2 linked regions of the Homo sapiens genome follow. The protein of the gene in region 1 purifies or fractionates together with the protein of each later gene. This does not show direct contact. Each region holds a gene or a part of one and is shown in the gene's direction. Other genes may lie near its edges.

The links.
Region 2: the proteins of DDX59 (region 1) and ARG2 purify together in Homo sapiens (affinity purification with mass spectrometry; one large-scale study listed by BioGRID and IntAct). This does not show direct contact.

Annotation. Positions count from the first base shown.
Region 1 is NC_000001.11:200,667,548-200,671,474, reverse strand, and holds the start of DDX59 (probable ATP-dependent RNA helicase DDX59), read left to right. Parts: upstream 1-1,567; 5' UTR 1,568-1,708; exon of another isoform or gene 1,709-2,861; intron 2,862-3,709; exon of another isoform or gene 3,710-3,927.
Region 2 is NC_000014.9:67,627,453-67,630,056, forward strand, and holds part of ARG2 (arginase-2, mitochondrial precursor), read left to right. Parts: exon of another isoform or gene 1-1,888; intron 1,889-2,604. UniProt on the Homo sapiens protein: May play a role in the regulation of extra-urea cycle arginine metabolism and also in down-regulation of nitric oxide synthesis. Extrahepatic arginase functions to regulate L-arginine bioavailability to nitric oxid synthase (NOS).

The DNA of each region.
Region 1 (3,927 bases):
CTTTGAAAACATTTCTGCTTTATCTTTGAAAGCTGAACAGCCCCCATAGCCTCTGATGCCGCAGTGCTAATCCTAGGTTCAAATTAGAGTCCAGCGCATGCACAGAAGGTGAACAAGAATGCTCCTACTAGCCTTATTAGTAATTACTAGGGGCAGATTCAGGTTTTATGGGGTATGAGCTTATATAATTGGAAAAGAGGAGGCTTTTAAAGAAAAAGATTCAGAATGATGAATACAAATTAGGTTCAAAAGTGACTAATTTTTATAATGGCAAAAGAAATTACAACAATTAGAAATGTCACAAAACCCAGGAAAAGAGTTCTGTTATAGGTATGTGACCTACGAACTTGGGAAGTCTGATACATTTAGTCTGTGTGGTTCCCATCAATAAAGAAAATACTTAAAGTGCATTTATAATCCTATCCGCTACAGTATTGAATACATTCCTGACAGGAGAAAACTTCCTTTTGACTAGGCAGTAAGAAATAAATGTTCTGTTACTACACGTAACAACTTGGATGAACCAAAAAAACAAATGTTGAGTGATAAAAAGCGAATTCCAGGCTATATGTATTTTTATAAAGCTCAAAAAGAAGAAAAATACACCAATACACAGGAATGCATCCAAATATGATAAAACCACTAAAAATGGCAAAGAGGGACAAAACTGAAGATAGTGGTGGTGAGCTAAGAGGCCAGGAGTAGAATCCTGGAGATGCATAGATACATGCTAAATACTGATAACGTGGTGGAGTGATAGTTTCATTAGCATACTTTAAATTTTACATATTTGGTAAATATGCTCTTTTGAATGCATCGACTATTACACTGAAAATATTTTTAAATACTTAAGGCACCTGAATATAAGCTGGCTTCCCTCCTTCCTCTCCCGTGCTGTCTCCTCTCCCCCATCACTTCTCAACTACAAGCTGCTTGGGACACGTGGCTCCAGAGGTTGGCAAAACAGGGAAATGTCAGCCCACAAGGAACAAGAACCGTGACTTGTGTTATTTTCTTGTTGGTGTTGGGGTGGGGGGAGGGGTGCGGTGGTGCAGGAAATATTATCCAGCTTATCATATATGCCACATCAAGCTGACTCCGTTTAAATTTTGAGTGGCTCTACTAGCTAAAGCCAGAAAAGGGTTTTTGGGCCCAACGGGCAGAAGTGCCCCTCCCTTTTACACTCACACTTCCCACTTTCTAAGGGTGCCAGGCCCCCGCGCCGCCCTCCTGCTTCTTTCCGGACGGTCCAACTCTTTTCCACCAGTCCCAGCCCATTCGATTACGTAAATTCTTCCAAGAGGATTCCCAAACGTGCCCCTCCGTCCAGAACTCGCCCAGCCCGGACCAGTTCCGAGATTTACCACCAGCCCAGAGCTGGGCGGGGGCGTGGAAAACGCGAGGAGCCTTCCCGCCCCTCTCCTTCTCCCTCCCTCCCTCCCAAGCCACTGCCGGCTCCCAGCCGAGCTCCGCCCCCGCGGTGGCCCCGCCTCCCCGCCGCCCGGAAAGCGGGCTGCGGCCCCCTCCCAAAACCCGGGGAAGTGGATTCTACTCTACGCTCCGCTCCGCTCCGCTCCGCACCACCAACCCCGGGCCGCAGTCCTGACGAGCGGGTCAGGGCTTGTCGGGCGGAAGCCTGGCCTGGAGCCTGGAAGGGGGAGACGGCCCGAGCGGGAGCGGGAGCGGACGCGGCCTCAGTCCTGCGCGGGTGAGCGTGCCCCGGAAGCTTGGGCCCCTGGCCGCCCTGGTGCCCCTTCTCCGGGACCTGGGGCGCTAGGCCGCGGCGGCAGAACTGGTGCCCCTGCGCGGCCTTCCTCCCATCCTTACAGTTCCCCGTGTCCCAGGCCTCTACCCGGAACCGGAGCCCCGCCCGTCTCCTAGCAGCTCCGTGACGTGAAGCGCCTCGGGGTGCGGTGCCGCCGGGCGTGGGTGGGAGGCAACGCCCGAGGGGAGGGCCCGCCAGTGCACGGGGGTGCGGGGCGCGTTGGCGAGAATTGGAGGCCGCGCCGCCGCCAGCCGTCCGCCGTCCCGCCCAGCAGGAGCACGTTCCCTTTCGCCATTGGAAGACTGAGTTCCAAGCTTTTTCCTGCTCACCTAGAGCCGTCCCTGCCCCGCCCGCCACCCCCTGTACATTTTCGGAGATTTAGGATAGTAATTCTAGACCCTCGGTTGCATTTCTGTTGGAATTTTTCTGGAAGTTGGAATCTGGCAGTTTAAACAAAGAATTTTTTTAAGAAAAATATTTATTAGTATATTTGATAGTCCCCAGATTAGGTTAAAAGCCTTATTCCCAATAACTGTAATTTTGCAAAGACATGTTTTTGGTGTAAAAAGGTATAGATATGGGTTGATGAAAAGAATCAAACTCTGAAAAATATTTGAAGAGATTTATTTTGAGCCAGATTCAAGTGACCATGGCCAGTGACAGTCCTCAGGAGGTCCTGAGAACATGTGCCCAAGGAAATTGGGGTACAGCTTGGTTTTATCTATTTTAGGAAGGCGTGAGACATCAAATACATTTAAGAAATACATTGGTTTAGTTTAGAAAGGCGGGGCAACTCAATCGGTAAATGTAAACGTTATCTGGTTGAGGTTATCTAAAGACCTGGGATCCATAAAAAGGAATGTTCAGGCTAGAGATAAAGGATTGTGGAGACCAAGTTTTATTGTGCAGAGGAAGCTCTTAGATAGACTTTAGAGAGAGCAGGTTGTAAATTGTTTTATATTGGACTTAAAAGGGTGCCTGGCTCTTAGTTGATTATCTCCTGGATCTGGGAAGGAAGGAGGGAAAACAAGGGGAGATGGGAATTCTCACCAAATGCAGATTTTTCCTGCAAGAGACTTTGCAGGGGAGTTTTAAGGTACGACAAGGAAATATATTTTGGGGTAAAACATTTTTATTTTCTTCCTTGTTAGGCCAGAGTCAGATTGGAAAGTAAGTCACGATATACAGGGTTAAATAAAACCCATCTGATGAGAATTTATGGTTTGTAGGGCATGACTCTCCAGACCCCTTAGAAAGGAATTTGGGTAAGATAAAAAATTAGAGCTTAGTCCTCGTATGGTTGAGAGCTTGTGCTCTGGATCCACAGTGCCAGGGTTGTAACACTTAAGAATTGTGTGAGCTTGGACAAACCACTTAATTTCTTTTCTTTTTTTTTTTTTTTGAGACGGAGTCTTGCTCTGTTGCCCAGGCTGGAGTGCAGTGGCGCGATCTGGGCTCACTGCAAGCTCCGCTTCCCGGGTTCACGCCATTCTCCTGCCTCAGCCTCCCGAGTAGCTGGGACTACAGGCGCCTGCCGCCAACGCCCGGCTAATTTTTTTTGTTTTGTTTTGTTTTAATAGAGACGGGGTTTCACCGTGTTAGCCAGGATGGTCTTGATCTCCTGACCTCGTGATCCGCCCGCCTCGGCCTCCCAAAGTGCTAGGATTACAGGCGTGAGCCACTGCGCCCAGCCCAAACCACTTAATTTCTAAGTGGCTCAGTTTCTTCTGAGTGTATATAATGTGTTTTATACACACACACACGTTTTTTCATTATGCTATGTTATGTATATTACTATATTATTTTTTCATTATGCTATACTATGTATATTAGTCTTGTGTATATTACTCTATGTAATATACCTAGTATAGCATAATGAAAAAATATCTGTATATATATATATTAGGCAATGCTAACTGCTTTACATGGTTGTGAAGATTAGGTGAAGCACTGTGCTTGGCATATAATAAACACTAAGTGTTACTTATGAAAATAGCATTTTCTCTATGATTTGTGGCTTTGATTTTAAAGATTCTAATTGTGAAGTATTTCTCCTGTTTTCTTTTTTGATGCTATAATAGAAGGATTTACCCCAGAATTTCTATAATATCTGATACTTCAAAGTGCAAATAATCAGTAAACGGAAATAGACCATGTGTACA
Region 2 (2,604 bases), on another chromosome or scaffold:
AGCTCTAGTTTTGGGCATTGAAAAGAGATGAAACTGGCATCTCTGAGGTGCCTTTTGAACAGTGTCATATCTTTGGGACAAGAATTGGTTGCTAGGTTGACTCAACAGCAAATATCAGTGATGTTTCTGAAGAGACTGTAAGGCTGTATGATCCACCAAACCTTCTGCCTCTGCCATTCACACTCTTCTATTAAACACTTAGCAAGGCATAGTGGCTCATGCCTGTCAGCCCAGCACTTAGGGAGGCCAAGGTGGGAAGATTGCTTGAGGCCAGGAGTTTAAGATCAGCCTGGACAATGTAGCAAGACCCCATCTCTACATTTTTTAAGAGTCTATTTCCACAGCAAGGAAGAAATGAAAGTACAGCACCTGTCCCATTTCCCACAAAAAAGTCTTTGCCTAGGGTCTGCATATGTGACTGGAAGCTAAATTATTGGAATGAGCTTGTTTGTTTAAGGTTATTAAAGTTCTGGGTTCTTTGACTTCTAAAGTCACTCTGATATGTATTTGGAAGAGTAAATGTCTAGCAAATTGGCTTTATATTTCCTTTAGAGATCTAGCAAAGACCAAACCTGCTTTGGACCTCATCTGTGCCACAGTGCCCTTGGGGGATGGGCCACCTGTAGCAGAGGAATAGGAGCTGAGGCATGAGCTGATAAGTGGCATCACTTTAGGGCCCTCTCCAATCTCACCTGGAATGTCACTAATAGTGACCTATTTCTTTGGGTTCAAGCTTTTCATTTTCTGGGCCTCCTTTATATTGCAGATTCTTTTATTTTATAGATAGGTCTCACTATGTTGCCCAGGCTGGAGTGTGGGGGCTATTCACAGACATAATCATAGTACACTACTGCCTCAAACTTCTGGGCTCAAGCAAGCCTCCTGCCTCAGCCTTCAGGATAGCTGGGATTACAGATGTGCACCACTGTGCTCGGCTGCAGATTCCTTTTAGGAGGTGAATACATAATCAGTAATTTGCTAATGCCTTAGTAAAAACTTAGTGATGTGCCTGCATAGAGGGAAATCTATAATAGACACTATTGGGATTTGGCAAATTTCAATGTAGCCGTATATTTCCCATTTATGACAGCAAAGATTTTAACTTAATACCTCTTATTTAACTTAATACCTCTTATCAAAAGTTTTTTGATACTTAACATTTACCATCTTCTAGACACTGTGCTAGGCATTTGCTATTATCCCATTTTCATAATTTGTAAAAAGCAAATTTTGACCACCTCAGCCATTAGGATGGCTACTATCAAAACAGAAAATAAGAAGTGTTGATGAAGATGTGGAGAAATTGAAACTCTTTTACACTGTTGGTAGGAACATAAAATGGAGCTGCTATGGAAAACGGTATGGCAACTCCTCTAAAAATTAAAAATAGAATTACTATATGATTTAGCAATTCCACTTCTGGGTATGTACCCAAAAGGACTGAAAGCAGGATCTTGAAGTAGTTGTGTACCCATGTTCACAGCAGTATTAACAATAGCCAAAAGGTGGAAGCAACCCAAGTGTCCATTGATGGATGAATGGACAACCAAAATGTGGTACATACATATAATGGACTATCATTCATTCTTCAAAAAGCAGGGCTGGGTGGGGTGGCTCATGCCTGTAATCCCAGCACTTTGGGAGGCTGAAGCAGGAGGATTGCTTGAGTCCAGGAGTTTGAGACCAGCCTGGGCAACTTAGCGAGTCCCAATCTCCACAGTGGGGGGAAAAAAATTAGCCAGGTGTGGTGGTGCATGCACATAGTCCTAGCTATTCAGGAGGCTGAGGCAGGAGTATTGCTTGAGCCCAGGAGGTTGAGGCTGCAGTGAGCTATGATCATACCACTGCATTCCAGTCTGGCAGCATGGACAACAGAATAAAGCCTCATCTGTTTAAGAAACAAAACAAAGAAACCTGACATATGCTGCAATATGGGTGAACTTTGAGGACATTATGCTAAGTGAAATAAGCCAGTGACAAAAGGACAAATACAGCATGATTCCATTTATATGAAGTTTTTAGAGAAGTCCAATTTATAAAAACAAAGTGGAATATCAGTTACTAGGACTTGGTGGGAGAAGGAAATGGGGAGTTAATTATTGCTTAATGGGTACAGAGTTTGTTTTGCAAGATGAGTTCTGGAGATGGATGATGGTAGTGATGGTAGTGTCCAATCAACTTCTCAGTCTTCTCGGCTCTTACTACAAAGGAAGAAACTGTACTACCCAGATTTCTTTTTTAATAGAAATGTTATTTATAGTTAATAACGAATGCACTGCATAAAAACTTTATAGTTTCATTATTGTGAAATGTGTTCAAGATCCTACAGTAAAAGTGAAACATTCCCAAGGACTTGCGTTAGTGAAGACTACACAGAAAACCTTTCTAAGGATTTGTGTGGATCCGATAGATACTTGGCAAATTTTTGAGTTGTACATTCTTACAGAAAGTCCACTTAAAAGTGATCATTTGTAAGACAAAAATATAAATAGTTTCAAAAATCTTTAAAAAATCATCCTAAATGCATGATCTTCACCTCCAGCTTCTGAAGAGCCCTCGTTCTCAGTGTCTTCCTTCCCACATTTCCCACCACAGCCATCTCAT